4 linked regions of the Homo sapiens genome follow. The protein of the gene in region 3 interacts with the protein of the main gene of each other region in a biochemical or structural test. Each region holds a gene or a part of one and is shown on either strand. Other genes may lie near its edges.

The links.
Region 1: of the proteins of LATS2 (region 3) and FBXL16, one has a biochemical effect on the other in vitro, tested with the Homo sapiens proteins (one study listed by BioGRID).
Region 2: of the proteins of LATS2 (region 3) and KIF23, one has a biochemical effect on the other in vitro, tested with the Homo sapiens proteins (one study listed by BioGRID).
Region 4: of the proteins of LATS2 (region 3) and AJUBA, one has a biochemical effect on the other in vitro, tested with the Homo sapiens proteins (one study listed by BioGRID).

The regions. Positions count from the first base shown.
Region 1 is NC_000016.10:702,718-710,161, forward strand, and holds the start of FBXL16 (F-box/LRR-repeat protein 16), read right to left. Parts: upstream 3,085-7,444; 5' UTR 2,795-3,084; exon of another isoform or gene 2,790-2,794; intron 1-2,789. UniProt on the Homo sapiens protein: Substrate-recognition component of the SCF (SKP1-CUL1-F-box protein)-type E3 ubiquitin ligase complex.
Region 2 is NC_000015.10:69,409,910-69,417,564, reverse strand, and holds the start of KIF23 (kinesin-like protein KIF23), read right to left. Parts: upstream 3,217-7,655; 5' UTR 3,100-3,216; coding exon 3,089-3,099; exon of another isoform or gene 2,456-3,088; intron 1,572-2,455; coding exon 1,502-1,571; intron 183-1,501; coding exon 54-182; intron 1-53.
Region 3 is NC_000013.11:20,981,587-20,988,863, forward strand, and holds part of LATS2 (serine/threonine-protein kinase LATS2), read right to left. Parts: coding exon 6,295-7,277; intron 2,221-6,294; coding exon 1,638-2,220; intron 63-1,637; coding exon 1-62. UniProt on the Homo sapiens protein: Negative regulator of YAP1 in the Hippo signaling pathway that plays a pivotal role in organ size control and tumor suppression by restricting proliferation and promoting apoptosis.
Region 4 is NC_000014.9:22,979,385-22,986,695, forward strand, and holds the start of AJUBA (LIM domain-containing protein ajuba), read right to left. Parts: upstream 3,168-7,311; 5' UTR 2,883-3,167; coding exon 1,877-2,882; intron 1-1,876.

The sequences.
Region 1 (7,444 bases), on a different chromosome or scaffold from region 3:
GGGGTTGGGACTAGGTTGGTACCTGAGTCACTGAGAGGGCTCCCAAGACCCCAGGGCTGGGGTGGGCCTTGCAATACACAGAGCCTTCGGATGAGGAGGGCCCATCTCCTTTTCAGCTGGCTCTCTCTTCAGGAGCTGCAGGGCTGAGGAAGTGGCTGCCCGTCCTCCACCATCTGGCCTGAGCCAAGAGAGGGAAGGGGGTCCTCCTGCCCCGCTCTCCCTGGCACCACACGCACCCCTCCTCTGACCGGCCAGAGTCCTTCCTTCACACACTGCCTAACTAGGAGTGGGGAAGCAGAGCTTGCAGACGGATTTTCCAGAAGTTACATAGAGCTAGGATTGGCTCCAAAAGCCCCGGGGCTGGCTGATTCCCTCTACCTGGGTCCTGCCAGGTGTACCTCACAGGGTCCTCGCTCTGCCCTGTTCTGCCTCATGGGGTCTCGATGCCTTCCTGCTGGGCCCTGGGCTAGTGGTCTCTCCAAGTACTGCCCTCATCCTGCAGGGTCCCTGCCACGGCGCTGCATTCCTTGCAGAGGCTGCACACCGCGTGCCCACCCCTGGGACATCCTTTTGGACACATGCCTGGGAAACCTCCTCACCCCTCAGCGCCCCCAGTTTGAAGGTCTCTTCCCCCATCTCTGGTGCCCCCATCTCTGTCAGCACCAGACTGGGGCACAGCCTAACCAACCACTCAGCCCTCATAGAACCTCAGGGACCATTGAGCCCTGCCTGCAGAGGGCCTTAGAGCTGGGCAGGGCCCTGGTGGCCAGAGAAATGCACATCGGGCTCCATCTGCAGTGGCAGCCCCAGAGCCTGGCTGACAGCTGGGGTGGCTGGGGATTGGGGACAGGGTGCAGACTGACACATTCCGTGGCAGCCCCGTGACGCAGGCACACCCGCGTCCCTGCCACTTGGCACGTGGCACAGCGGCAGAGCTCCTCTCCCGCCCCCAGTTTGAGATGCTTCTGGGGGTGCACCAGGGGCTCTGAGGAGGGGCACCATGGCGCAGCAGGCACGTGGCCTCAAGAGAAACCCGTGTTGCTGCCCCAGCAGACTGAGGGCCCATGGTCAAGCCCAGGGCAGCTCAGCCTTGAAAGCTGGACACCCTGGGGAGTGGGTGCTGGGATCCAGGCCTCATCTCAGCCCCTGCTCGGAAGAGCATGAGCACCCTCAGAGGCGAGGCCTGGGCCCCTAGTGCCTACTGCTCCAGGCAGCTGCCACTAACCATCACCCCTCTTTCCTGCCCAGTGAAGGAATGAGGCCTGAACCCACACATTGCAGCCAGTTTGGCCGTTGACTCCTCCTGCACCACTGGTGGGGAAGGCTCAGTCACCTGCTCACCCACAGAGCTCCCTTCACTGCCAATCCAGTCATGGGAGGCACAGCAGTGGGTGCCCACATGCAAGGAGATGGGGTCTTCGGGTGGCTGAACAGTGCCACCTGGGTGGGAGATCCCTAACTCTCAGCAACACAAGGCTTCCTGGGTCCATGTCCAGCTGGTTCAAGGGCCCCGTGCCTCCCACACAGGAAGCTGTTTGTGTCCTTCTCATCAGTGGGAGGTAGGACTCGTCCAGCCGCCCCGGAAGTGGGTGTGAGCTGGAGGCAGTGAGTCTGTCGATGGAGGGGCTGAACTCAAGGGTCTGGCCCCAGATGAGGGGCAGTTGGGGTGGCAGGGGGCAGGGAGTGGGGCAAGTGAGTCCTAGGGTTCCCCCACACAGCGATGTTTGCAGCTGGGCCTTGAATTTCCCTCCCCTCCAGGCGGCTCCAGGTCCAGCCCTGTGTCCACCTCTGGCCAGACCAGCCAGGTTCCACTAGGCCTCTGCCCTGGTCCGGGAGACAGAAAACCCTTCAGTCTCCTGGCCTGACCCAGGCCTATCTGCTCCAAGGCTGCTGTCCAGCACCCCACAGAGGGGGTGGGCTGGGAGACGGCCCTGTGTCCAGGGAGGCCTGAGCTGCCCCTGGCCATTGGGCCCTCGGATGCACGGGTGTGGGGGAAGGGCCTGAAGGAAGAGGCAGGTGAGGTGGCCTCCGCCATCTGCTCCTCCTGCGGAGGGCAGGCTGCCCGAACAGAGCCTGGAGCCTGGGAAGGGCCTGGAGTGGCCGCTGGGCCGTCAGTTCCTGAAGCTGCCACCGCAGCCCTCTCTCCTGAGGTGATGGGTGGGGAACGCTCTCCACCCACCTAATCCCCAGGAGGACACCGGACCCCTCCCGAGCAGGTCTGAAGGTGCCGTTTCCCTTCTGAGGCCCTCCAACCTTGGCCAAGGCCCGGTCCCGCCTCCAGAACCAGGAAGGTGCCAGCCTCCCCCCACCCTCCTCCTCCCGCGGGCAGTAGCTCAGCGCAGGCCCCGGGTCCAGAAGCCGCCCGCCCGGGGAGGGCCGCCCCTCAGGCCGCACATCCACGCGACCCCCATGCAGTTTAACGGTCTCTGGCCTGTCACTTCGGTCCGGGGGCGCCCTCTGAGCCGACCAGGCGCCCGGGGTGGAGGCCGGGGGCCTACAATTCCTCCTTTCGGCGTCCCAGGAGGCACGGACCCCCAGCCCCGGCCGAGTGGCCAGTGGGGAGCGGCCCTCTTCCGGGCCAGGGGCCGGGGCGCGGGGCTGCGGGAAGGCCAGGCAGGGACCGAGGCCCAGCGGCCGCGGGGGAGGTGGGGAAGGGGCTGCCGTTACGTAAGCCCTTCCCGGGCGGCGGCGGCGCGGCCCCCACCCCCACCCCGCCCCCTCCTCATTGTGGCCGCCGCGGAGGTGCGGCCTGGCCCCCTCCCGGCCCCGCAGCCCGGCCGCACGCGCACCTTACCTCGGCCCGGGCTCCTGGCTCATGCCACGCTGTCCGCCGGGCGACCTCCCGTCATGGGGAGCCCGGCATGGGCGTCGGCGCGCGGGGGCCGCCGGGGTGCTGGACTGGCCGGCAGGGCCCGGCCGCGCCCTGCGCCCCGCGTCCCGTCCTGGCCGGGCCCCCTCGGCAGCGCACGGAAAGGAGCTCCCCGGTGGGAGAGGATCGGCCGCCCCAAGCCTCCCACCGGGGAGGCTGAGGCTGTGCCCAGATAAATAAGGCCGCTTTGCAGGGAACCAGGCGGGCGCCTCCTCCTCCCCTCGCCCTCCCCGCGCTCCTCCGTGGCCGCCGCCGGCGCCGCGCGCGCCCCCCGCCCGGCACCAAACGCCGCGCCCTCGCGCGCTCCCGGCGTGGCGAGCCAATCCGGGTTCGCGAGCCCGGGCGGGGGCGCCGAGAATGCCGAGCCCCGCCCCCGCCCCGCCCCGGCCCCCGCGCGCGGCGCGCTCCCGGCACGGCGTCCACGAGCACGCGCCAGGCCCGGCACGCGCCCCCGCCCCGCTCGCCGCGGGCACCCGCACAATAACAAACCCCGGCGCGCGGCGGGCGGGGAGGGCGCGGGAGGCAGAAGGGAGGGCGAGGGGAGGCGGGAGAGCAGGCGCCGGCGGGTGGCCCAGGGGTCCGGGGTCCTATGGGGACCGGGGCGGCACCGCGCGTCCCGGCCCTTGGCCACCACTTGGGGAGGCGAGGAAGGCGAGACCCGGCCCAGAGGAGACAGGGTGGTCAGACCCCCGTCTCTGGACCCTCCCGCCCAGCCCACGGCAAGGACCCTTCACAGCCCTCACACCCCCCGCGCACCTGCTGCGTGCCCGGCCGGAAGCCCCTCATTGGAGACCCTGGCACACCCGCAGAGCGCGAAAACAAGTGACTGCACGGATCAGTTCAGACAGTGACAGTGAAAGCACCCGAGGGCTTGCGGTGGTGACTTCTGGCGGGGGCTTCCTGAGGGTGCCCCACTGGAGCTGAGACCCCCCCACGGCGCGAGGGAGGGATGGCTCGGGAATGGGGGTGCAAAGATCCGAGGAGCCTGGCAAGTTCCCTCGGGAATAAACTGGAGGCTGGAGGCGGCGGCGGCTGCTGCAGCCCGGGGCAGGGGTGGGGCGTGCTAGGTTAGGTGGAGGACTCGGTGGGGACCGCTGGAGACCCCAGACGCCCCAGCAGGCTCAGGGCAGGAGAATGGAGGCCAATGGCGCCCTATCCTGGGGTCTCCTGGGAGCAGGGCCGGGGGAGGGAGCAGGTGTGGGGAGAGCAGAGGGGTTCTTTGCACCGGGAAAGAGCTACAGGGCTGAATGGGGCTCCTGAGAGTATCTCAATAGGAGTGAAACCAGCTGCTGTTCCCAGCGTCCTGATGGGAAGCCTGGCCGAAGGGGCCGGTGTGAGGCCTGGGGTCAGCGGGAAGGAGGGTCAGACTGACGGCACCCTGGCTGGGTCCCGGGGTGGGGTGGTTCTGTGCTTGCTGTGGGGGCGCCACTGGGTCTACCTGGGGTGAGCGCAGCAGCTCTTCTGCGTAAGTCTTGCCCGGTACCTGGATACTGACCAAAGAAGGTGCCCGGAGTGGGGCAGACAGGACGAGCCCCGTGAAGACAGTTGGGGCAACAGGGGAGCGGCGGTCCAACCTATCTGGGTGTCTCCGGTGCATGGTCTGGCAGGCTGGCCCTCTGGCAGCAGCTTCCACCCCAGGCGTGGACTGCTCCCGGTAGGAGGGTTTCACCTCGTGCCTGGGGCTCTCACCACAGCAGGTGCCAGGGCCTCAGGCAGAGAACAAGCTGTGCTTGTGTTGAGTCCCAGCTGGGGCTGGAGCCGGACACACCCCAAGCGCACAGGGCAGGCTGGACACACCCCAAGTGCATAGGGTGGGCTGGACACACCCCAAGTGCATAGGGTGAGCGTGGGAGTCAGGCATTTGGGTCATGCAACCCTGGCGAGGCCCAAGAAGCTAGCCCTGCCTGTGGGGAATCTGAGCAGGGAAGAGTGTGTGGAAGATCATCACAGAAAGGCCAACCGTGCTCCTCCAAAGCGGTGACCCACCTGCCCTCCACCTCTGTGACCAGCTGTGACCCACCTACCCCCCACCTCTGTCACCAGCTGTGACCCACCTACCCTCCACCTCTGTCACCAGCTGTGACCCACCTACCCTCCACCTCTGTCACCAGCTGTGACCCACCTACCCTCCACCTCTGTCACCAGCTGTGACCCACCTACCCTCCACCTCTGTCACCAGCTGTGACCCACCTACCCTCCACCTCTGTCACCAGCTGTGACCCACCTACCCTCCACCTCTGTGACCCCACCTGTGCCGGGCAACTTTGTCTGTCTCCACCATGGCTGGTGGCAGCTACTTCCCCATTGGTCTCTCCACCCCTCTCCCATCTCCTTTTCTCCCCAGGGTGCAGCGGGGCCATTTTGCCGTGCAGACATGGTCCTGTTCTTCCCAGGGCCCTGTTCATTCTTTGCTGAAGACTGCACAGCCCTGAGTGCCTGGCACGGCTGGCCCACAGCCTCGCTCTATACCTGGCCCCTTGAGGATGAAGCTTCAGCCACACTGGCCTTCTTCTGGGGCCAGGAGAGTGCCCCATCCCTAACCTGGTGTGCCCCTCCCTTCACCTGGAGCACCCTTCACCTGGGGCACCCCTCACCTGGAGCACCCCTCCCTTCACCTGGAGCTCCCCTGCAGCACCCCTCCCCTGGAGCACCCCTTCCTGGAGCATTTCCTCATGTGGAGCACCCCTCCCTTAGAGCACCTCTCGCCTGGAGCACTCCTCTCCTGGCCCCTTGCCTGGAGCACTCCCTTGCCACCTGTACCTGGGTGACTACTTGCCTTTCAGACCTTGGCTAATGTATTCTCCCCTAGGTGCCCTCCCTCAGGAGGACAGGGCCACAGACCCGTGTCCTCACCTCCCCAGCACCAAGGACCTTCTTTTCTCAGCCTGTGTCTGCCTGGTGTCTGATGGTGCATTTGATGAGCTATTGGCTGACTGTGCCTGCTGAGGGCCAGGGTGCGGTCTTCTTCCCCACCACCCTGTCCCTGGGCACTGAGCCTCCATCTCAGTACGTCACAGGTGCATGGCAAATTTGGCGAATGAGGGAGACAGCGATGCGTCAGCAGCATGAAAGGTGACTGGCACCAGCAGTTTGGATCGCCTCCTGTGGCGGGAGGCCCTTGTAGAGGATACCTTTGGAGAACAGCTCACACCCCAGAGGGAAGTGGCTTGGACAAAGGGGGCTGCTCAGCAGACTTCGATCTCCTCTGGGGGATGTGGATACCGCTCAGGCCCGCACCCCTCCATTGGTCCTGGAGACTGATATGGGAGGCGGTATGTGCCTTGGCTCCGGAGGGCACCTGGAGCACCCCTCACCTGGAGAACCCTCATCCAGAGCACTCCTTTCCTGGAGCACCCCTCACCTGAAGCACCCTCAGTTGGAGCATCCTCTCACCTAGAGAACCCTCACCTGGAGCACCCTGTTACCCGGGGCACCCTCACCTGGAAAACCCTCATCTGGAGCACCTTCTCACCTGGAGAACCGTCACCTGGAGCACCCTGTTACCTGGAGCACCCTGTTACCCGGAGCACCCTCATCTGGAGCACCCCCTCACCTGGAGCACCCCTCACCTGGAGCACCCCTCACCTGGAGAGCCCCTCTCCTGCAGAACCCCTACCAGGAGCATACTTCACCGGGACCACCCCTTGCCTTGATGCCTCAGCACTGAGGAGTCTCCCATCTAGGTGGCTGGGAGGGCACTCTGGAGCCATGGGGATGAGGACCAGAGGCTGCTGGTACATCTTGCCCTGAGACTTTGGAGGACTGCAAGGGGACCCACATTCACTTCAGCTCTGCACCTGTGGTGATATCCCCACACTGGAGAGCAAAGTGATTGCTCCGGGGGCCAGATGGCCACGCCACCATCCCCCCACACACTGCCCCTGCCCCCTGCCTGGAGCACAGCCCGAGAGCACCCAGGATCATCCATGTGAAGCAGCAGGCTGTGGGTATGTTTGGCCGTCCCGACCCCTCCACAGCCAGAATGGGCACCCATAGGCATGAGAACCTCACAGCCATTAGGGGTGCCCTGAGTGCCATGGGCGGTGGGATTTCTCTGATGCCCCCCAGCTCTGCTCCCTGCCTGGCTCGCCCCCTATCAAGGCTAAGGATGACTCAGGGCCCAGCCATCACCATAGCAACACGCGTCGCCTAGCAATGGCGGTCTCCCGGCAACGGTTGTCTCCTAGCAATGGGATATTTTCCTGGGCCCTGGCTGGAGCCCGGCAGTTATTTTTAGCTCCACAGCAAATCAGTCGGCAGCTGCATTTTCGGCTCCTTGAAGAGAGGCAAGGTGTGGGGGGGTGGGTCTCTCGGCAAAGGGAGGAAAGCATCCCCAAGATAGGAATCTTGCTGCCGTGGGCCCGGAGGTGCAGGCCTGTGGGTGGGCGAGGCCGGATCCTGCCTGTGCAGGGGGGCAGGTGGCCGGTGGAGGGGAGCCAGGGGTTGTGCAGGCTGCCTGGATGAGTCGGCAGCTAGGACTATGTCCTTGATGGGCCCCCAAGCACCCTGAGCCTCATAGGTCGGCTGGGTAGAGGGGACGCAGGCCAGTGCTCACAGCTGCACTATCAGAGCATG
Region 2 (7,655 bases), on a different chromosome or scaffold from region 3:
CATTCAGGAAACAACATATTGAGTAAAAACAACTTGGTCCAAATCAGAATTACCTCCTTATAGTCTCCATTTCGGTTGAGTCTGTAGCCCTCAGGAGTATGAAGCTGAACAGTTGTATTATTGATCACTTCTATGCAACACTCTTGATCAGGAAAGCCCAGTGGGCGCACCCTACAGTATACCTGAAGAAATAGGAAGGTGCTTTAAGAAGAAAGTTCGACCTTTTGCCTGATTTTTCACTTAAGCTTCTCATTCATTCATTCATTCAACAAACATTCAGTCTCTCAATTTAAGAGCTCTGTATCTCCAAGGGCTAAGAAAATTAAAATCTGCTACTTGAGATTGACAAATACAAGTATGTATTAGATATGAGAATACTTTAAATACACACAAAATTAAAATAAATTTTAATAAAAATCAAATTGCAGTGTATTCACTATTATATTGTACACAAATAATAGTTATACTACTACTAATATCTCTAAAAGTCAACAACATGTCACACGAGATTTTTAAAACTGTTAGAATTTCTTGGAAATGGATGTCAATTTAAAAACTTGTCAGCTTAACCCAACATTTAATATACAAAGACATTTTTATTTATTTATTTATTTAGAGACAGAGTTTCTCTCTTGTCACCCAGGCTGGAGTGCAATGGCATGATCTCAGCTCACTGCAACCTCCTGGGTTCAAGCAATTCTCCTGCCTCAGCCTCCCGAGTAGCTGGGATTACAGGCACCCACCACCACACCCAGCTAATTTTTGTAATTTTAGTAGAGACAGGGTTTCGCCATGTTGGCCAGGCTGGTCTCGAACTCCTGACCTCAGGTGATCCACCCGCCTCAGCCTCCCAAAGTGCTGGGATTACAGATGTGAGCCACCGCACCCAGCCTACAGAGACATTTTTGAAAGCAGGGGAGGGGGCTTGAGGAAAACTCATTCAGCTGTGTGCAAAGCACCCGGTTCCCTTAACTCAGAGCCAGGGACCCACTCCAGTGGCAACGAGGGATAGATTTAAAATACCTCAGAGCAAAGAACCCTTTTTGTTTGCCATTTGTTGTTTTGTTTTAAAATTCTTATTCTTTTTGCCTGCTTCATTTTTTCTTCATAATTTAACTGAATTAAACTTGGTCCCAAGAAGTTTGGAACTCTCCTCATGCCATCAGTTACTGTATGGCATGAACTCAGTTCATATTCTCTGGGATGAATATGAACCCAGTTGGAGATTTTTAATTATCTAACTCTCCAAATTATAATTACAGAAGGTATGCAGTTGACAACCAAAGACTTCATTTTACTGGACTAATTTAATTAATCTTATAGAGAAAATTTCACAGCTAGCACTAGTTTTACACAATGTAGTACATCCATTTAACTAAATGTTCTTTGATTATACTTCCACATGTCTTCTTCTTTCCCTTCCAAGCATACACATAAGACAGAAAGGACTGAAGAGATAAGTTTCTTAAACACCACACATAAATTTACAGGGATACCTTACCCCAACTGGGTCTTTAAGGTTCGTTTGGGACCCTTTTTTCACGGTAGGTTTCCGGGGTGTCTTAGCTCTCCTGGTCATAGATTAAAAAATAATAATAACTTTTTTTTCAGTTCAACACGAATACAAAAGCCTCACCTAAAACTTATACAATCTTTCTAGGTTATCTGTAAATTATCCCTTAGCAGTTGCAAAACACTGCATCCCAAATAACATTAATAATCATAGTAGCAGAGTGTTTGTGGCATGCGTAATCCAAAAGTAATTAAAATTTGCTTTAGAATACATTTTTGGTACCAAAGCTACCTACTTATTCTCTGATTAGTTCTATACTTAAAATGGCTTGCATATTTTCTTGAGCAACAATTTAACAGAGGCACTACAAATTATAACTGCCCACACTTTACAGACTGACAAGCGATTAACTTCAATACACTATAAAAATGCACATGGAGGAAACCATTCTTTCGTCAAGGGTTACGCCTGTACTTTCAAGGAACAACCAGTCATTGAATGCTCAAAACATTACTCTTTGTCTCCAAACAAAATCTGGTCCCAAACTGCCAATTTCTTGGTTTCTTAAGTAGGGGCAATCAAAAAGTTATTTTGATTGATTTCACCATTTCTCTAGCATCTCATCTTTTTCCCTTCACATTTATCTATAGGCTAGATATACATTTAACACATTAAAATTAAGTAAGATTATTGGCTTCGACTGTAGTTTAAAAATATTTTTCCAAACATATTCTCAGATGAAACACAAGCAAATTCGTGTTATTCAGTGCAAAATACTTTGTGGTGGGCTTAAGTTAAACTCAACGTATATTTCTTATATATAATTTTTTTCATCTAAAGATTTTGACTTCGGCCTCTTAATAAACAAGTTGTCTTTTGCAAACGACTCCCTAAATGGTAATAAAGCCAATCCTCTCCTTTGCACGACAAATATTTCTTTACCCAGGAATGATGCTGCGCCGAAAATATTAGCTTAGGAATGTGGGCGGAGGTTCTCTGCGGCCACAAAATACAGCAGAAGTAACTGGCCTGTGTAAGCGGATGGGCTCGGCCTCAAGGACAGGGTGCTCGGCTGAAAAAAAAGCTAGCGGCGATCACCGGTGCCAGGGCTCTCCAGAAACGGAGCCCATCTAACCAATGCCCAGCACACTCGCTCTGCTCCACACACGAGACCACCTCCGACCCGCACTAAGTTGGCCAACTGCACTCTGGAGGCGGCGGCAGCCAGCGAGGGAGAAGGGAAAGGCTGTCCCGGGACCCCGAGGAGGACTGCCCCGCCCCCGGGAACCGGGTGCGGCGTAAAACAACCCCGGCTCCGGGCCGACCCTTCCTGGCCCCTTGGAGGCCCAGGCGGGGCGGCGGGGGGCGACGCGGCAGGGGTCTCCGCGCCCAGGCTCCCGCGGAGCGGCCACACGTGGAGGTTCCCACTTTGGGGTCGCGGCCGCAGCAGCACCGGGCGGGATGCTGTCCGCGCTGCCCGCGTACGGCCGCGGCCTGAGTGGAGACGCCTGCCCCCAGCCCCGAGGCCTCGGCCCCCGTCCGCCCTCTCTCCCTGCTCGGCGGCCTCGTACTCACGCTGACTTCATGGCAGCAGGCTCCACGCCGCCCAAACGCGCATGCGGGACGGCTGGCTGGCGAAGACTGCGGGACGTTAGGACCGGCAGCAAGAACTAGAACTTCGCGGCTAAGGCGCGGTGCTCTGCGAAGCCGGCGGCGACGCTAAGAGCCCAGGTGAGCTCCCGCCTGGCGCATTTCAAACGGGCCAATCAGCGCCCGTCCGCAGGGAGAGGCAGGACCTCCGCGGAAGTGACTTCGCTGCCGGAAGTGGCGCTTGTCTCCTAGGCGACCGACGCTGAAAGGGCCGCGGAGTCGCGTGTCAGGGCTGGAGGGAGATCTTGAGGTATGGTATTTAAACTCTTCCGCCTTGCGATGACGAAACTGAGGGTTTCTTTTCCTCCATCACAAGAAGTTCAATGGAAGGGCCTTTCCAGGGTTGATTCAGAGGTCGGAATGTCGTTCTGGTGAAAAGTGTTGTATTCCTGTGCTGTGCCCTGCTCCAAGTCTCAGGCTCCGTCTCTCTGGCTCCCAAGTCACCACATTATCTTGGCGTCTTTTCTCTCTCTGATTCACCTTTCCTGGGTTTCCCTCCAGCTCTGTCCTATATGTACATTATTTTATCAAATCTTTTTTTTTTCCTTTTTTATTTTTTGAGGTGGAGTTGCTCTGTCGCCCAGCCTGGACTGCAGTCTTCAGCTCACTGCAACCTCCACCTCCTAGGTTCAAGCAATTCTCTTGCCTCAGCCTCCCGAGTAGCTGGGATTACAGGCGCGCACCACCACGCCCAGCTAATTTTTGTATTTTTAGTAGAGATGAGGTTTCACCATATTGGCCAGGGTGGTCTAGAACTCCTGACTTAAGGTGATCTGCCTACCTTGGCCTCCCAAAGTGCTGGGATTACAGGCGTGAGCCACTGCGCCCGGCCTGTTTTATCAAATCTTGATTGTGTTTGATCCTGGCCTTACGGAGATGAATAAAATTTGGTCCTTACCCTTAAGGGGCAACCTTTTGAACCTACTCTTGCCTTAGATGAACTGATTCTATATCACTTCTGTCTTTGACCCTAAGCCGATGACTACCAAATACACATCTACACCTGGGCTCTCATGGAACTCTAGCCCCTTCTCAACTTCCTAAAGGACCACAGCACTGGTAAGGATAGTCACAATGTCCTTGGCCAATATTGTTGGTGCTCAGGAAACGACACCCCAGAGTATGGCTCTTTGGCACACTGAGTGCTTTGAACTAAAGAAGACTGAAAGTGCCTCAGAGAAGCCTTAAAAGCAAAGTCTGTCTCTGACTTTCTCCTGCCCTCTTGTCTCCCACCCCTCTGTGTCTCCTAAAGCAAATAATAGAAACCAGAATTTCTGTTCCCCAAGGCGGGTCATGGAAACTAGAACCCCTTTTCTCCCAAGCAAGCCAGAAACATTATTCTAGAAAAACCTAGAAATATTAATCTAGCCTTCCCCCACCTTTTTGTGTAAGAGCTGGCCATAAAGACATTCTTTGATGTACCTTGTCATAAGACCCTCGTTCCAAAAGGGTCTTGCCCTACACTCAGGAAGAAGGAAAGCTGCACAGAGAGGCCAAGAAGAATCTGAACAGACAGGACTTGCTGGATTCCTCCTTCAGTCTGTTACTATTAGATCATACTCCTTTTGTACAATCACATTTCTACACAGCTGTCCATTCTTCATCTCATCTAAGCATAAAAATGGACAGCTTTCCCTGGGTCTTTGGGTCTTCATTTCTGAAGGCACTTACATCCCATAAAACTGTGATTCAATAAGTTATCCATTTATCTTGCTAACCTGTTTTTTGTTATGGTAGTGTCAGCTGTGACCCTTAAGATGGGTAAAGAAAAGTATCACACCTTTTCCACCCCTACATTGCACATTAGGATGGTTCCAACTTTTCCTATTACAGATACAGCTATAGTGAATGAATGTGGAAATTTATACAATGCAGGTAAATATGTAGGAAACATTTCTAGAAACAGAATTGCTGAGTCAAAGAGTATACATATGTGTAACATTTCACAGATATTGCAAATCATTCTCCATAAAAGCTGTCCAAATGTACACTCCCACCAGCCTGTATGAGAGTGCCTATTTCTCCACAATTCTCAAAGTGTTATCAAACTTTTCAGTAGCTACCAATCTATTGATATCTCATATCAATTGGTGAGAAAAAACATGTAGTTAAATTTTTCATTTATTTTCAGATAAATGTTGTCTATTCATATATTTTAGAGCCCTTTTGATTCCTTCTCTATCAACTGTGTTCATATTCTTTGCCTCTTTGTTCTATTGGTTGTTCGTTTTTCTTAATGATCTGTGAAAGTTCTTATATTAAAAAAAAATTGGTCCTCATCCAAAATACGAGTTTAAATACTTTTATTTTTCACATTTTGGTTATTTTTATTTGTATATGTTTTGTGACAGCTTGGAAAAAATTTCAGGTAGACAGATTAATCCGTCTTTTCTTTTATGGCTTCTGTTTTGTGTCATACTGGAAAAATACATCCATTCTGAGTTTTTTATTTTATTTCTCATTTTTTGTTTCCTAGTGCTTTTATTGCTTTGCTTCCTATGTTGAAGTCTTTGAATGATTAGGACTTTGTTGTCAAGCTAGAGTTTGGTATTTTGTTGGTTTGTTTGTTTTGTTTTGTTTTTTGAGACGGAGTCTGTCACGCAGGCTGGAGTGCAGTGGCGCAATCTCGGCTCACTGCAGCTTCCGCCTCCGGGGTTCAAGCAATTCTCCTGCCTCAGCCAGGCTGGTCTTGAACTTCTGACCTCAAGTGATCCACCTGCCTCAGCCTCCCAAAGTGCTAGGATTACAAGTGTGAGCCACCGCACCTGGCCTAGAGTTTGGAATTTTTATCATTTAGGAATTGGGCTTGGTTGCTGACTACTTATATCCTAGTTGCTCTTCAGTTTAGCTTCTACCTCAGACTCCATTGGAACTCTTGTCACCAAAATTACCACTTCCTTGATGCTAAATCTATTTGACTTTTGTCTTACTTGGCTTCTTAACAACACTAAAAAATGTTGCCCATTCCTTTCTTCCCATGCCTTTATTTTTTCTCCTAGCTGTCTAGCCCTTCTTTCTCAGTCTCCTTTGTGAGTTCTTTTTTTCTCCCTTAAATGTTGGGGCTCAGGGTTTAGAGCTGGTCACTAGGTGTGCCTTTTCCCTAGGCACTCTCAAGCACTCATATGGCTTCACATCCCATTCATGTTTGCTCTTCTGAGCTCCAGAGCCATATATCCAGCTGTCTTCTGGATTCTCCACTTCGATATCCCACAAGCATCTCACATCTAACACATTCTAATCTCTTCTCCCAAACTTGCTCCCTCTCAGTGGATGGCATCCACCAAGCCAGAGTCTAAAGCAACATTGTTAGCTTTTCTCTCTTCTTCTGTCTCAATATTCAATCACTAAATCTTAACAGTTCTACCTACTAAGTAGCCAAACCTCCAAACTGCTCCACTTTTCTCTGTCTCCTCAGCCACCATCTTCTCTTGTCTGATAAAGACAGCAGTCTCCTAACAGGCCTCTCTGCTGCCACTTTCCAATTCAGTTTCCATTTTGCTCATCTCTAAATCATGGATCTGATTATGTCACATACCTATATGAAACTCTGCAGTGGTTCCCCATTGTTGGAGACCCACCACAGGGCCCTGAGACGCTTCCTCTGGGGCTCATCACCCATCACTGCCCCCTGTCCCCTCTAGTCATGTTGAACTGCAGTGCCCTGAACACGCTGGGCTCACACGCCATTCTCTGTGCTGTCACGCTCTCCTCCCTCCTTTCCTCTGACAATGCCTTGCCTTCAGTTCTCTGCAGATCTGCCAGCTACCCTGCTGTGGATACTGGGCCCCGTGGTACAGCCCCCACGCCCCCAAAACTGCCCTTTCCCACTCACTGCACCTGTTGACTTGTTTCAGCACTCACATTCCAATTGGCAGTCACTGTTCATTCCTGTCTCCTCTACTGGCTTATCCCCACAGCCTCACTAGATGGCATCGTTGCATGCCCAGTGCCTAGCAGTGCAGGTGCCCCATACATGGCTTGAAGGGATGAATGAATCATCCCTTCAAAGAACGCTCCAGTTGAGGACCCAGTTACATCGCACCACCTCCAGCTTCTCTTCAGGCCAGTTTCTTCTTCCTCCCTCACTTCTGTATTAAAGTTCTCTGGCTTATTAATTTCCTTAAAACTACCAAATAATTACATCATTTTTCTATTCAAAAATAGCAAAGGGCTACCTATAGCCATTAAAAGATTTGCATTTTACCATAGAATTAGAGATCCAGATCAGGAGTGCGCGTAGGAGGGTGGGGAGAAGAGAACTGAGGGGCTTTTTTCTTTCTAAAGTCAAGTATTTTAGGTATAATTTACATACAGTAAAATGGACCCTTTTTAGTTGTATCGTTATGTGTATTTGACAAATATATAGTGTGCTGTAACCACAATCAAACGTATATTTCCATCACAGTGGAAAATTCTCTGGGCTGCCCCTACTCCCAGGCCTTGGCAACGACTTTTCTGATTTTCTTCCCTATACTTTTGCCTTTTCCAGAAT
Region 3 (7,277 bases):
ACAGTTAGACACATCATCCCAGAGGTCGCTGGGCTCCATGCTGTCCTGTCTGACATGGCTCCCTTCACCCAGGAATCAGGGATAGTGAAAGAAAAGAACAAAATATAAAGTGAATTTTCACTCTTCAATAACTCAACAGATCCACAGCTTAAAACAGCAAAGTCATTCCAATCAGCTCCTGACATATCAGGACAGAGAATCCCCGCTGAGCTGCTCCATAGGGGCAGCCTGCTGTTCCTAGTTTGGAGACACACGTGGTGAGGTTGGCGCTAGCACCAAGGTAGAAATGACGGTGAAGAATCACAGGACACCATGCACCGTGCTGAGCTGGCAGGAAGGCACTGCAGGCAGGAGAGGCTGGAAGAACTGCGGGGACAGCACTCCTAGCGCTTAGGCCATAATCAAAAGGTAACAACTGCCTGACACATGTTTTAAGATGAGCATGGAAAACTTAGGAGGATTTAAACAACATGAACAAAGGTTACTTCAATGCCAGAAAATGAGAATGAATTAAATGATTTAGAGTTAGTTTTGAGTTAGAGAAAAAAGACTAAGTGATGATATTAAAATAACTACTTCAAGAATCTCAGCCATAAAGAAGATAATAATCAGCTGTTTTTGGCTTTTCCAAATGGCAGAACTATAGGAAATGGAGTTCAATGATACACTACATAGATGCAGGTTGGCTATAAGAGAGGGCTCCTTGGGAGGCTGTGACTCTTTTATTTATTTTATTTTATTTGAGACAGAGTTTCGCTCTTGTTGCCCAGGCTGGGGCGCAATGGCGCGATCTCAGCTCACCGCAACCTCTGCTTCCCGGGTTCAAGCGATTCTCATGCCTCAGCCTCCCAGTAGCTGGGATTACTGGCATGCATCACCACGCCCGGCTAATTTTGTTATTTTTAGTAGAGACGGGGTTTCTCCACGTTGGTCAGGCTGGTCTCGAACTCCTGACCCCAGGTGATCCGCCCACCTTGGGCTTTCAAAGTGCTAGGATTACAGGCGTGAGCCACCATGCCCAGCCAAATCTTTTATTTTTTAAGGCTTGCTTTAATGAGGCAGGTGATGGTTCCCCACAAAGGCCCCGTGACACCTTGTAGCCTACTGTCTTAAAAATATAGTAGGCCAGGCACGGTGGCTCACACCTGTAATCCCAGCACTTTGGGAGGCGGAGGCAGGCGGATCACCTGAGGTTGGGAGTTTGAGACCAGCCTGACCAACACGGAGAAACCCCGTCTCTACTAAAAATACAAAATTAGCCAGAGGTGGTGGTGCGTGACTGTAATCCCGGCTACTCGGGAGGCTGGAGGCAGGAGAATCACTTGAACCCAGGAGGCAGAGGTTGCAGTGAGCCGAGATCACGCCATTGCACTCCAGCCTGGGCAACAAGAGCGAAACTCTGTCTCAAAAAAAAAAAAAAAAAAAAGTAAACCTGAAATCCACTACCTTAAAAAAAAATGCATATCACACTATTCCTTTTGGAAGGGAAGGATGTCACACCAATTTATAAAATAATGGAGTGACAGATAAAAATTTCAAAATGATTAGGAGCCACTAGGATGGGAAATTTAGTTGCTTGCAATGGGGTTAGTGACATCTACACATAGAAAGTGCATGTGGCACACTTCAGACAATACCTTTCTGGTAATATTTGGAATTGTGAGTCCACCTGAACCCAGTGCAGAGGCCGAAATCTGTGAGTTTAATGTGACCATCCAGATCTATCAAAATGTTATCAGGCTTGATGTCTCGGTGGATGAAGCCCATCTTGTGGACACTCTCAATGGCCAAAGTCAGCTCTGCGATGTAGAACCGGGCCAGGTGCTCAGGGAAGACCTCCATCCGGATCAGCAGGCTCATCATGTCCCCACCAGGGATGTAGTCCATCACAAAGTACAGGCTGTCTTTGTCTTGGAAGGAGTAGTAGAGTTTGACCACCCACTCATTGTCTGCCTCGGCCAGGATGTCCCTCTCGGCCTTGACGTGGGCCACCTGATTCCGGTTCAGGACATCCTTTTTCCTTAGGGTCTTCATGGCGTACAGGGCGTGAGTGTCCACCTTACAAGCAAGGCACACTTCTCCAAAGGCACCGATCCCCAGGGTTTTGATCTTGACAAACATAGACTTGTCCATCTTGGCCCTCTTTAACCTGTTGTAATTAGACTCTTTCTGGTAGAGGATCTTCCGCATCTGCTCCTGCTCAGCTTCACAGAGTCCAGCCTGTGTAGAAGGAAAAGGAAGGAGGAAGAATCACATTAGAGAAGTCCCATGATAACAAATGACTGGGATGGGGATGCCCTGGAACTGAGAGGAACCTAGCTCATTTTACAGAAAGGAGAACAGAGAAGAATGGGTCTCATATACTACAGAGTCTCGCTCTGTCGCCTAGGCTGGAGTGCAGTGGCACAATCTCAGCTCACTGCAGCCTCCGCCTCCTGGGTTCCAGCGATTCTGCTGTCTCAGCCTCCCGAGTAGCTGGGACTACATGTGCCCGCCACCATGACACCTGGCTAATTTTTGTATTTTTAGTAGAAACAGCGTTTCATCATGTTGGCCAGGCTGGTCTTGAACTCCTGACCTCAGGTGATCTGCCCACCTTGGCCTCCCAAAGTGCAGGGATTACAGGCTTGAGCCACTGTGCCCGGCCAGTTTTGTTTTTTTATATCCATATATAGACATGAATATGGAATGAAAAGTTAAGATAAAAAAGAAAGTTCTTTCTCTAGGATACTTTTGGCTCTAAAAACTAAGGGAAACTTCTATTAACACAAATCTGTGGAAAAGGGGACCACAGCATTCCTAGAACTCCAAGAGCCATCTAATCTTTCAGTAACTCAGGGAAAATGGGAAAGCAGGAAGAAAAGTCAACAATCAGCATACAAAAATCAGTAGCATACATTAGATAGACTTGTATATGGTGAGAGATAGGGTCTAGTTTCATTCTTCTGCATATGGATATCTGGATTTCTGTACACCAATAATGAATGCCATTTACAACAGCTATAAAAAAAATCTAGGAGTAAATTTAACCAAAAAGTGAAAGAGCTCTACAAAGAAAACTACAAAACACTGAAGAAAGAAACTAAAGAGGACACAAACAAATGAAAAGAGATCCCATGTTCACCGACAGAAAGATTTAATATTGTTAAAATGACCATACTACCCAAATCAATCTACCAATTAAATGCAATCCCTATCAAAATACCAATGATATTTTTCACATTACTAGAAAAAACAATACTAAAATTCACAGGGAGCCCAAATACTCAAAGCAATCCTAGGCAAAAAGAACAAAATTGTTACCTGACTTCAAAATATGTTACAAGCCTAGAGTAACTGAAACTGCATGGTATTGGTATAAAAACAGACACATAGACCAATGGAACAGAATAGAGAACCCAGAAATAAGTCCACGTATTTACAGCCACCTGATTTTTGACAACGGTGCCAAGAATGTACACTGAAAAAGAGACATGCTGGGAAAACTAGATATCCATATGCAGAAGAATGAAACTAGACCCCAATCTCTCACCATATAGGAATGTCAACTTAAAACAGATTAAAGACCTAGAAATAAGACCAGAGGCTATGAAAATATACTCCAGGACATTGGTTTGAGCAAAGATTTTTATGGCTAAAATCTCAAAAGCACAGGCAAAAAAACCCCAAAGTAGACAAATGGGACTATATTAAGCTAAAAAGCTTCTGCAGAGCAAAGGAAACAACAGAGTAAAGAGGATACCTGTGTTGAACAGGAGAAAATATTCACAAACTATTCATCTGACAAAAGACTATTATTCAGAATATACAAGGAACTCAACTCAACAGCAAAAAAAATATCAAATAATCCCATTAAAAAGTAAGCCAAAAGGCCAGATATGGTGGCTCACGCCTGTAATCCCAGCACTTTGGGAGGCTGAGGCAGGCGGATTACTTGAGGTCAGGAGTTTGAGACCAGCCTGACTAACATGGTGAAACCCCGTCTCTACTAAACATACAAAAATTAGCTGAGCATGGTGTCGCACACCTGTAGTCCCAGCTCTCAGGAGGCTGAGGCAGGAGAATAGCTTGAATCCAGAAGGCAGAGGTTGCAGTGAGCCGAGATTTCACCACTGCACTCCAGCCTGGGCAATAGAGCAAGACTCCGTCTTAATTAAAAAATAAATAAATAAAATAAGGCCAGGCGCGGTGGCTCACACCTGTAATCCCAGCACCCTGGGAGGCTGAGACAGGTGGATCATCTGAGGTCGGAAGTTTGAGACCAGCCTGAACAACATGGTGAAACCCTGTCTCTACAAAAACATAAAACTAGCTGGGCGTGGTGGTGCATGCCTGTAATCCCAGCTGCTCGGTAGGCTGAGGCAGGAGAATCACTTGAACCCGGGAGGCGGAGGTTGTGGTGAGCTGAGATCGTGCCATTGCACTCCAGCCTGGGCAACAAGAGCGAAACTCTGTCTCAAAAAGAAAAAAAAGTGAGCTAATGACCTGAATAGACACTTGTCAAAAGAAGATACACAAATGGCTAAGAGGTGCATGGAAAGATGCTCATTAACCATCAGGGAAATGCAAATGAAAACCACAATGAGATATAATCTCTCCCCAGTTAGAACGACTATTATCAAAAAGGAAAAAAAAGAAACTAAAAATAGAACTACCATACAATCTACCAAACCCATTATTGGGTATTTATCTAAAGGAAAGGAAATCAGTATATCAAAGGGATACCTGCACCCCATGTTTATTGCAGCACTATTCACAACAGTAAAAACATGGAATCAACTGAAGTGTCCATCAACTGATGAACAGATAAAGAAAATGTGGTCTGTGTACACCATGGGATACTATTCAGCCATAAAAAAGAATGAAATCCTGTCATTTGGAGCAACATGAATGGAACTGGAGGTCATTATGTTAAGTGAAATAAGCCAGGAACAGAAGTTCGGTTAGAACACCACACACTGTTACTGATATGTGGGAGCTAAAATAATTGATCTCATAGAGGTAGAGAGTAGAATGATAGTTACCAGAGGTGGGAAAGGGTGTGTGTGTGTTGAGGGGAGATGAGAAGTTAATTGGTGCAAACATACAGCTGGATAGAAGGAACAAACTCTAACTAGTATGACTATGGTTAGTAAAAATGTATTCAATATTTCAAAATAGCTAGAAGAGAGGTCTTGAAATGCTTCCAACACAGAAATGATAAATACACCAGGCAATGGATACTCTAAATACCTTGACTTGATCATTACATATCCTATGCATGTAACAAAATATCACATGTTCCCCACAAATCTACAAATACTATGTATAAATAAAAAATAAACGGCTGGGTGTGGTGGCTCACACGTGTAATTCCAGCACTTGGGGAGGCCGAGGTGGGCAGATCACCTGAGGTCAAGAGTTCGAGACCAGTCTGACCAACATGGCGAAACCCCCGTCTCTACTAAAAACACAAAAAAATGGCCAGGCGTGGTGGTAGGCACCTGTAACCCCAACTACTCGGGAAGCTGAGGCAGGAGAATCGCTTGAACCCAGGAGGCAGAGGTTGCAGCGAGCCAAGATCGCGCCATTGCGCTCCAGCCTGGGTGACAGAGCAAGACTCCGTCTAAAAATAAATTAAAAAATAAAAAATAAAAATAAAAAAAACACAAATGAAAAGTATATCTGTAAAAAAATCAGTGAATACGGGACACTGAAAAGAACACAAATCTGGTTTTCAGGCTTTGGAATTATTGGCTTTGTGTGATTTAAATCTGTTACATTTTAATTTAAATAGTTTCATCAATAATTACCTTCTTCAGCACTTCAGTGTCAACTAAGGTATATTTAAATCATTAGTTACTAACTAAACACTTAAAAGAATAAATGGAATCACTACTAGATACATTTTTCTTCCAAAATCCCACAATCTCAATTTACAAAACCTTAAACTTTGTTTCTACTCATTCAAATGTTCTATTATTAATCCATGATGAATTTTGTTAAGCGAGGACATACCCTAAAACTTAATTTGCTAATTTACCTACAATGTAAATTGTAGATTACCTACATTACGCTGGCTACATTATGCACAGCTATCTCTGATTCTTCAGAAGAGTCAAGGGGAAAGGCGAAAGGGAGGTCACACCATTTGCAACTTCTCCAAGTTGTTGGCCCCAGAACCAGACTGTCGCCCATTAGCCGTTTTGATGATAAGGGGTATACAGTCGAAACAGAAAAGGGATTGTGCGTGCTTCCTATTGCCAGTAGAGGGATGAGCCGGGAACAAATAGTAAAAATGAAGTGTGAAATTACTTTGGCCATTTCTTGCTCCAGCTGCAGCCTCCGGTTAACCTTCTGCTGGTAGGTTTTGATGACATTCTCCACGTGCTGCTCCATGAAGAACTTAAAGGCGTATGGCGAGTAGCTCTTGATGCGTGACTCTCTCTTCTCTTCGTCTCTGCTGTTTTTGCGGACGGGAACGGGAGAGGTCTGAATCTGCTTTTTATCCTTTCCGCCTTTGTCCCCCTTGGCGCTTTTGCGGCTCTTGTCGCCGCCCTCGGGCTCGTTGGGGCCCGCACGGAGGCTCTGCTCCATGCCTGCGCACAGGCTGTCCAGGTCGTACTGCTCCGACTTGCTGCGCAGCAGCAGGTGCTTCGGGTAGGGCGGAGGCGGGCACCTCCGGTCTGGGCCTCCGTACTCCACGTCCAGCGGGAAGGCGCCTGCGCCGCCCAGCGCCAGGGCATGCTCCTCCTTGGCGTCCAAGCCCTCCGCAGCCGGGGCGGGGGCGGGGGCGGGGGCCGGGGCAGGCGCGGGCACCCAGGCGGGGTGCGAGGGCCCCACAGCCGTCTGCGGCTCCGGCCTCAGCACACGCACGCTCTTCACCGGGTGCAAGATGTGCGCGGCCGTGACAGCCGTCACGGTGTTGGGGGCGGGCAGGGAGGGCTCGGCCTTGCCAGGCGGACCGGGCCGCGGCTGGTGGCTGTTGAAGGAGTTGGTCCTGCTGGGCACTGGGCAGTCAGGCCGGAAGGCCACGTGCGCGCGCGGCGGCGCCTCCAGGCCCGGCTTCTGCAGGGAGTCCCGGCGGGCCAGGGTGGCAGCCGGCCACTGCTGGACGGAGGTGCTGCCCAATTCATACAGGTCCACGTTGAGGCTGTTCCGCGAGGGAGTGAGCAGGCTCTGCGGGGGGCTGTCGCTGGCGAACACCTGGCTGCGGGAGCCCAGCACATGCAGCTGGTGGGCCGCGGGACCGGCCTGCTTGTGGTGTGGGTGCGGCACGTAGAGCCCGGCGGCAGGGG
Region 4 (7,311 bases), on a different chromosome or scaffold from region 3:
TTTGCCCAGGGGCTTGGGAGCCTGTGCAGCAGCTGCAGCAACTGATGGGCCCAGGCCTGTCCTGCTCCCACCCTCTGGCAGCTGGGCAAGGCTGAAGCCAAGGAAGAGGGCCCCTACTAGGGGCAGGAGGAGGGTACAGTCAAGCTGGGGCTAGCGGCACAAGGGGTATGTAGGGGTTCTGTCAAAGGAGGCAACCTGACTCCCAAGGAGAAGGGGCCCCCATCTCTGAATTCAAAATGTGGCTTCCTCATGGAAGTGAAGATCTGCCCCAAGATTGCCATGCCAGGGGGTCCTGTCGGAGCCATTCTTTAGGAAACCTTGGACGTTATGGGAAAAGCAAACGAAACTGCTCAGGCACGTTGGCCTCACCTCCTCTAACCCAGCATATCTATACCTATGTTCTTCCTGCCATTTTATTGCAGTTTCTCTGAGTTCCTTTCTTCCTTTTGGCTCTGATGGTTCAGCCAAAAAGACTTCTTTACTAGCCACCTCTCCTGGGCCTCAAAATGAAACTGCTAAATGGGCCCTGTCATTCAGTCTTCCTTGATCAAAGCGGTTTGGCATCATCTCCTCTGGGCTTTCCTCTCGGTGGATTTGGAGGTGGGGAAAAGAATGGGGGTGGAGGCTGGGGGTTGAGTTATGCCCTTATAGCCTGCCGCCCTGCTACCTCTGAACCTCCTACCCAACCATCCCTCCCTGGCCGCGTTCCTCTTCCTATTCACTTTTCTAGCCATAGAGTTCTACAGCATGGGGTCCAGGAGTGGGGCATGAGTGGTAAGAAGAGATGCTTAGAAAAGTGAAAGAGGCCCACAGCCCTTAGGCGGTAAGCCTGCCACTTCTTTCCAATCACAATCAGATTCGAAGTTTTTTATGTGTGTAGCAGTGCCTGTGAATTTTGACTAAAAGATCTTTCAAGACCCTAATGTTCCTCATAGCTGAGACATATAATCAATCAATACTTCCTGAACAGAGTAGGGGAGGGAGACAGCGACCAGGTTTCCTTAACAGTGTCAGGAAGTAAGGCGCTACTTCTGGCCTGAATTCTGAGAGGTTATAAGCAGAATTCAAGGCCAAGTTATTTCTGGCAATAACACAGGGTCGTTATCCATCCAGAGGTAATGGTGTCCCAGTAGTCATGACTTTTACCCTGACTTCCGGAGGATGGGGAAAATAGAAGCTGGTACTACTGGGTCTCTGATTAAATGCCCACGCACGCACCTAGCCAACAGGACTGGGGAGGGACAGCAGTTGGGTCCCAGGGCGCTCCATCCTGTCTCCCAGGCTCCATTTCCCCGACAGCCGCCACTACTCCGCGTATGCTAGGGAGCGTCCCCCGATCCCCGAACCCCACCCCTCCGCCGCGCGGCGGCAGCCGCCCCGCCCGCGGGCACCTGGAGCGCCCGGGCAGGAGTCGGCACGCACGCGGCCAGCCTGCCCCGCCCCCCCACCCGCGCATTCTCCGAATTCCTGCGGGCGGAGCCTGGGCCCGGGTGGGGGCGCGGCGCGCACAAACCTCCAGGGGCACCGCCGTGAAAGGGGGGAGCAAGTTGGGGGGGATGCGCCTTCACTGCCCCACTTGGTCCCTTCCCTACGAGGCCTCCTGCCGCAAAAAACCGAGGTTCAAATGCTTGAGAAACGGACTCACGAGATACCAGGGGGGTTGAATTTAGCAGAAATAAGGAGCCCTGGTTCATCTGAAAACTAGCAGGAAGGGGACAGTGCTCTGGGGCCGCCCCCATCCATCCCTCTTGCTTCTTTCCTAGTCCCGCGTCTTCACCTCGGACCCCGGGGCACCGGCACTTTGGGCCGTCGGGGCAGTGGAGAACCGAATACCGTGACGGGTCCCTTCCCGTCCCTAACCACTTCTCTCACTCACCGAAGTAGTCCTCCCTGGCCTCTGGCTCCCGCATCCGGGCCCGGGCGGCCTCCGGAACGAAAGGACCTGGTGGCTCCTCCAGACCCGACGGCTCAATCCCCGAGGGTTCTCCGCGGGCTCCGGCTTCTCGCCCACCGGTGCCCACCGTCAGGCGAAGCAAAGCTGTTAGCTCGTCCTGGTACCGGGCGCCCACGGCGCAGTCCCCGTAGCCGGTCACAGAGTGTCGTCCGGGTTGCGCCCCCCGTCTCTCCAAGGGCCCCGCCGCTCCCACTCCGGCCCCGGCTAGAGCTCCAGGGCTGCCCAGGGCCGGGGGATACGAGTGGCGGCTTTCCTGGCAGCCGAACCCCGCGGGCCGCTGAGCGTACAATCGGTCCAGGGCGGCGTGGAGCTCCGGGTAGGCGGACGGGACCCCTCCGGGAGAATAGCCTGCCGGTGCTCCGGCCAGGGGTGGGCCAAACAGGCACGGCCCCGCTGGCAAGGGGCTCCCGTGGCGCTGGTCGTAGCCCATGCTGATGCCGCTGGTGCGATTGCTGCAGGGCCGGCTACCTCCAGCTCCGCCAGCCCCCGCCCCGTCCAGCAGCAGGCTGCCCCGGGGGCTGGACGGCTTGCTCGCGTCGCTGGCCGAGCTACTGGCGAAGCTAGAGCGGGGGCTGAGGGCCGGGGCCGTGGGCTCCAGCCGAAAATCGGGGGGCAACGACTGAGGTAGAGGCAAGGCCCGGGTGGGCGGCGGCCCCGCGGGAAAAGAGCCTTCGTAGCGCGGCGCCTCAAAGGAGCCGCGCTGATTTCGCTCAGCGTCCAGGGAACCTTGCTCCCGGGCCGGCTCCAACGGCTCATCCCCAGGTCCCCCAGTAGCTCCTCGGGGCCCTGACTTCCTAGGTCCCCCCAACCCACTTAGGCGCCCCTTGCCCGGCCCGGGGGTCCCGTCAGACCCAGACCGGCTAGATTCACCCTTTCTGCGGCCGAACTTCTCCAGCAGGCGACTGGCTTTCTCTCCTAACCGCTCCATGCCCTCGGGCCTGGGGCCTCTCGCCCCCTCCCCGCCTGGCACCCTGCGGCGTCTCGGCGGCCGGTTCTCTTTCCCTGCAGCCGGACTCTGGTTCCCCAGGGGCACAGGGGAGGCACAGGGGCTTAGCGGGCGGCCTGGATGCCCTGCGCCAGGAATCCCACAGCATCCCCCAGCGGGAGGGGCTGCGTCCCCCCGCGCATCTGGGGCTGAGCGGGGCTAGCAGGGTCTCTGGCCGCGGCTGTCCAGTCCGCAGGTCTATCTGTTCACGCGTCGACTCGCCCGACTGCCCCACTCTCCCCGGCCCCCGCCCCCCTAGCTCTCACGCTAGCCACAGACCGAACTTCTCTCCCAAACTTTTGTCTGCCTGGCCGGATCTACTTTCCTAGGGGGGCGGAGCGCGGTGTGTGCGAGAGCGCCGGGGGTGTCCGCGCAGGGATAGCTGGTGTGCGTGCAGCGGAAGGCGCTAACTGCCCTGGATGTGGAGACCCGCGGACTGGACGTGAGAGGCGGGCAGGGGCAGTTGGGGCAGCTGCCCCTACAACACTGAAGAATTGGAATAGGAAAGAGTGTGGGGGTAGGGGACGGGGACTCTTTGTCTGCAGTTGGAATGCGCGGAGGGGCATGGTGGAATGTGTCGCGTCCCGGGACCGGACGACAGGAGGCATGTTCTGCGCTAGCACCGTGACTTTGTTCCCAGCGTGGGGACTGTGGGAGAGATGGAGAGAGACTGGTACAGAAATGGTGAGACAAGGAGAGAGCCATAAAGAGGAAGACAGAGAGAAAGAAGACAAATGCATAAAGAGGTTCAGAGACGTGTACGTAAAGATAGCCCTGAAAGGCGACGAAGCCCACAGAGAGAGGTGGAAGAGGGAAGAGGTAGCGAAAGAAAGGGAGAGCTGAGGAGCAAAGAGGAGTGTGGACGATGCAGAGACCGAAGGGTGCGCAGACAAAGGAAAGGACAAGCTTGTCCAGAGAGAATGAGAGACAAACAGATAAACTGCAATAAAAAGGCACCACCTTCTGGACCCAAAAGTTTTGTGATTTGTAAAAGCAGTGAAAAGGAGTCAGGAAAATGGGACTAATCTCTACTTTGAGAGGGAGGGAAAGAGATATAGTGTGTATGTAGAAGCAGTGAAAAGGAGTGAGGAAAAGGTTTGGGACTAATCTCTACCTTAAGGGTAGGACAGTTAGAGGGATAGACACCCCCTGGTGTTGGGAAATGAGATTTTTCTCATTTCAGGTGACTGTGGAGATCGAAGGCCTGGTTTTAGGGCTAGCGAACACCTTCTCCCTTTGGTTTTGGTCCACAGAAGACTGGTGATACAGAGTAAGTATTAAGAGGAAGAAAAGAAATGCCGTGTAGAGGAAATTGCAAATGAAAATGATCAGGATGGAAAAGAGGCTGATATTGACTATTTTAAAAGGATCAAGAATAAGGAAAAGAAACCCTGGCTGAAGCAGCCGGGCGCGGTGGCTCACGCCTGTAATCCCACCACTTTGGGAGGCTGAGGCGGGCGGATCACTTGAAGTCAAGAGTTCAGACCAGCCTGGCCAACATGGTGAAGCCCTATCTCTACTAAAAATACAAAAATTAGCCAGGCGTGGTGGCGCACGCCTATAGTCCCAGCCACTCGAGAGGCTGAGGCGGGAGAATCGCTTGAACCCGGGAGACAGAGGTTGCAGTGAGCCAATATCACGGCCACTGCACTCCAGCCTGGGCGACAGAGCAAGACTCCGTCTCAAAAAAATTCTCAAAAATAAATAATAATTTTTTTTAAAGAAACCCTAGATGAAGCTAAACATACCTAATTAAATACCAGCCAACGGCCGGGAGCGGTGGCTCACGCCTGTAATCCCAGCACTTTGGAAGGCAGAGGCGGCGGGATCACGAGGTCAGGAGTTTGCAACCAGCCTGGCCAGTATGGTGAAACCCCGTCTCTACTAAGAATACAAAAATTAGCCGGTGTGGTGGCGTGCACCTGTAGTCCCAGCTACTTGGGAGGCTGAGGCAGAAGAATCGCGTGAACCCAGGAGGCGGAGGTTGCAGAGAGCCGAGATTGTGCCATTGCACTCAGGCCTGGGCGATAGAGGGAGATTCCGTCTCAAAAAAATTTTTTAAAAACCAGCCAACTACTTTTGCCCAGACTAAAACATCAGGGGCAAGGGGTGGAGGAAGTAGAATGGAGAAGGAAAATGACTCCTTTGTATTTAGATAGTAAATGAGTATGAAAATTATATGCAAACAAGTCATGCATATTATTTTCATCTCAACATTTTGAACACCTTTTATAATCTTAGTGTAGCCTTAGGGAATGTGGAAAGAAACGAGGTTAATATCTTTTGGGAAATTAATTTGTGCCAAACTATTTGGCTTCTTCGTCCTAGTTGCATTGTCTCCCTGACCTCATCTCCCCTGAGAATCAGCCTCTGTTTCCCTGGTCAAGGCCACGGCTTTTCTCTGATCCTGAGGAGAGTTTCCTACCAGAGTGGAAGCAGGGAGGACTGAAAGCACTAGGAACAGAGGGGAGCTATCGGATTGCATCTAGAACCTGCTGTGAGCAACATCTTCAGAATTAACCATAATGTGTTCCCTCCTTTCCTGTGTCCAGATGAGGAAGGAGAACTTTGATTCTTCCTTCCAATTACATCCAAAATATCCACACAACTACTAATATTTGGAAGCTTTGATCCTTTGGGGTGAGGATGCGAGAGGAAATCTTATGAAATGTTGGGAGGCCATTAAAGGAGGCCCATGCAAGAGTTGGTGGTAGCAATGGGCACAACTGGGATGAACAGCCTGTGTTTTCAAGGGATAACTGGAAGCAGAGATGAGTGAAGGGGAAGAAGTAGAAGACGCATATGCTAATAGGGCATGCTCCAATAGTGCTCATGACCTCAGGTGGCCTCTCCACAGTCTAAACTGGAGCTGGGATCTCCAAAGGCCCTCTTCGTTCCCAAGACTTTAATTATAATCTGTATATGCAGGTGACTCCCTAATCCATATTTCCAGCCCAGTCTTTCTTGGAATTAAAAACTCAACTAACTACTAGCATCTCCAATGGCTGTCTCAGAAGCACCCAATATCCTAAACTGATCTCATCTTCTCTGCCTCATGAAACTGGCTCCTCTAACATTCTCTGAGTAAATGGCACAATCCTGTTAGCTGCTTAAACTAGAAATCTGAGCGTCAACCCTATGTCCTCCTTCTCCCTTAACCTCAAATCCAACCAAGTCCTATCAATCACCAAGTTCTATTAATTCTGCTTCCTAAACATCTTCCAAATCTGTCCTCCCCTCATCACCACTATATATGTCAAGTCACCGTCTTTCCTCTCCGAAACCAATGCAAAAGTCTCCTGGCCAAGGCTTGCTCCCTGCAATCCATCTTATACCCTGAGGTCAAGTGATTTTTTTCAGTACAGAAGCTTTACGACTTACAATGGAGTTATGTCTGAATAAACCCATCCATTATAAATTGAAAATATCGTAAGGCAGAAGTGCTTCTTCAACTTCACCATATTTTCAGCTTAAAATGGGTTTATCTGATATAACTGCATCATAAGGTGAGGAGCATACTGAATCATTTCGCACCATCGTAAAGTTGAAAAATCCTAAGTCGAACCATCGTTGAGTTGGGGACTGCCTGTAGGCAAAACCTGTCGTTTTATTTCCCTGCTAAAACAAACTTTCAATGATTTCTCACTGCCCTTGGGTTGAAGTCTGTACTCTGTATTATGAGGTCTGTCTCACTCTCCAGCCTCTCCTCTAGCATTATCCCTTCCCCAAAAGTCTGCAGTAGAACTGGACCTTGTCTGTACTCTCTCTTGCCCCTGGACTTTTGTACCTGCAGTTCCCTGTTTGGAACACTCTCTTAGCCTCCCCTTTCCTTCTGGTTAACTCTTCCCCAGTTTAGACATTACACCCTCTCAGAAGAAGCCTTTCCAGACTGCAAGAGTAGGTTAGCTACCCCTGCTGTATATTGCCATAGTGCACTACACTCCACCATGGTCACCCTTATCACAGTTCATTTCATTGCCTACTCCACTGCCTGGCTTCCTGACTAAACTAAAAAAATCTCTGAACAGCATCCAACCTTATCAACAATGTATCCATAGCACAGTACCTGACACCTAGTAAAGCGATCAATGTTTGTTATAAGACTGAATAAATGTAAAGCCATTTTTGCTTTTCAATCCATCCAAAATGCACACCCCTTCCTCAAAATACAGCTTGGCTGACAGGACCAAGAAACAGCTACAAAGCTGTGTATTTTGCTTGGTCACATAGTGAGAGAGAGGCTGCCGGTGAGACACGGGAACTCTTTAAGCCTTAATTTCCTCATCTGTAAGATAGGAATAGTAAAATTTTCCTCATGTAATTCAATAAACAATAGCTATTATATCAGGAACCCAATTCCCCAATAGTGATA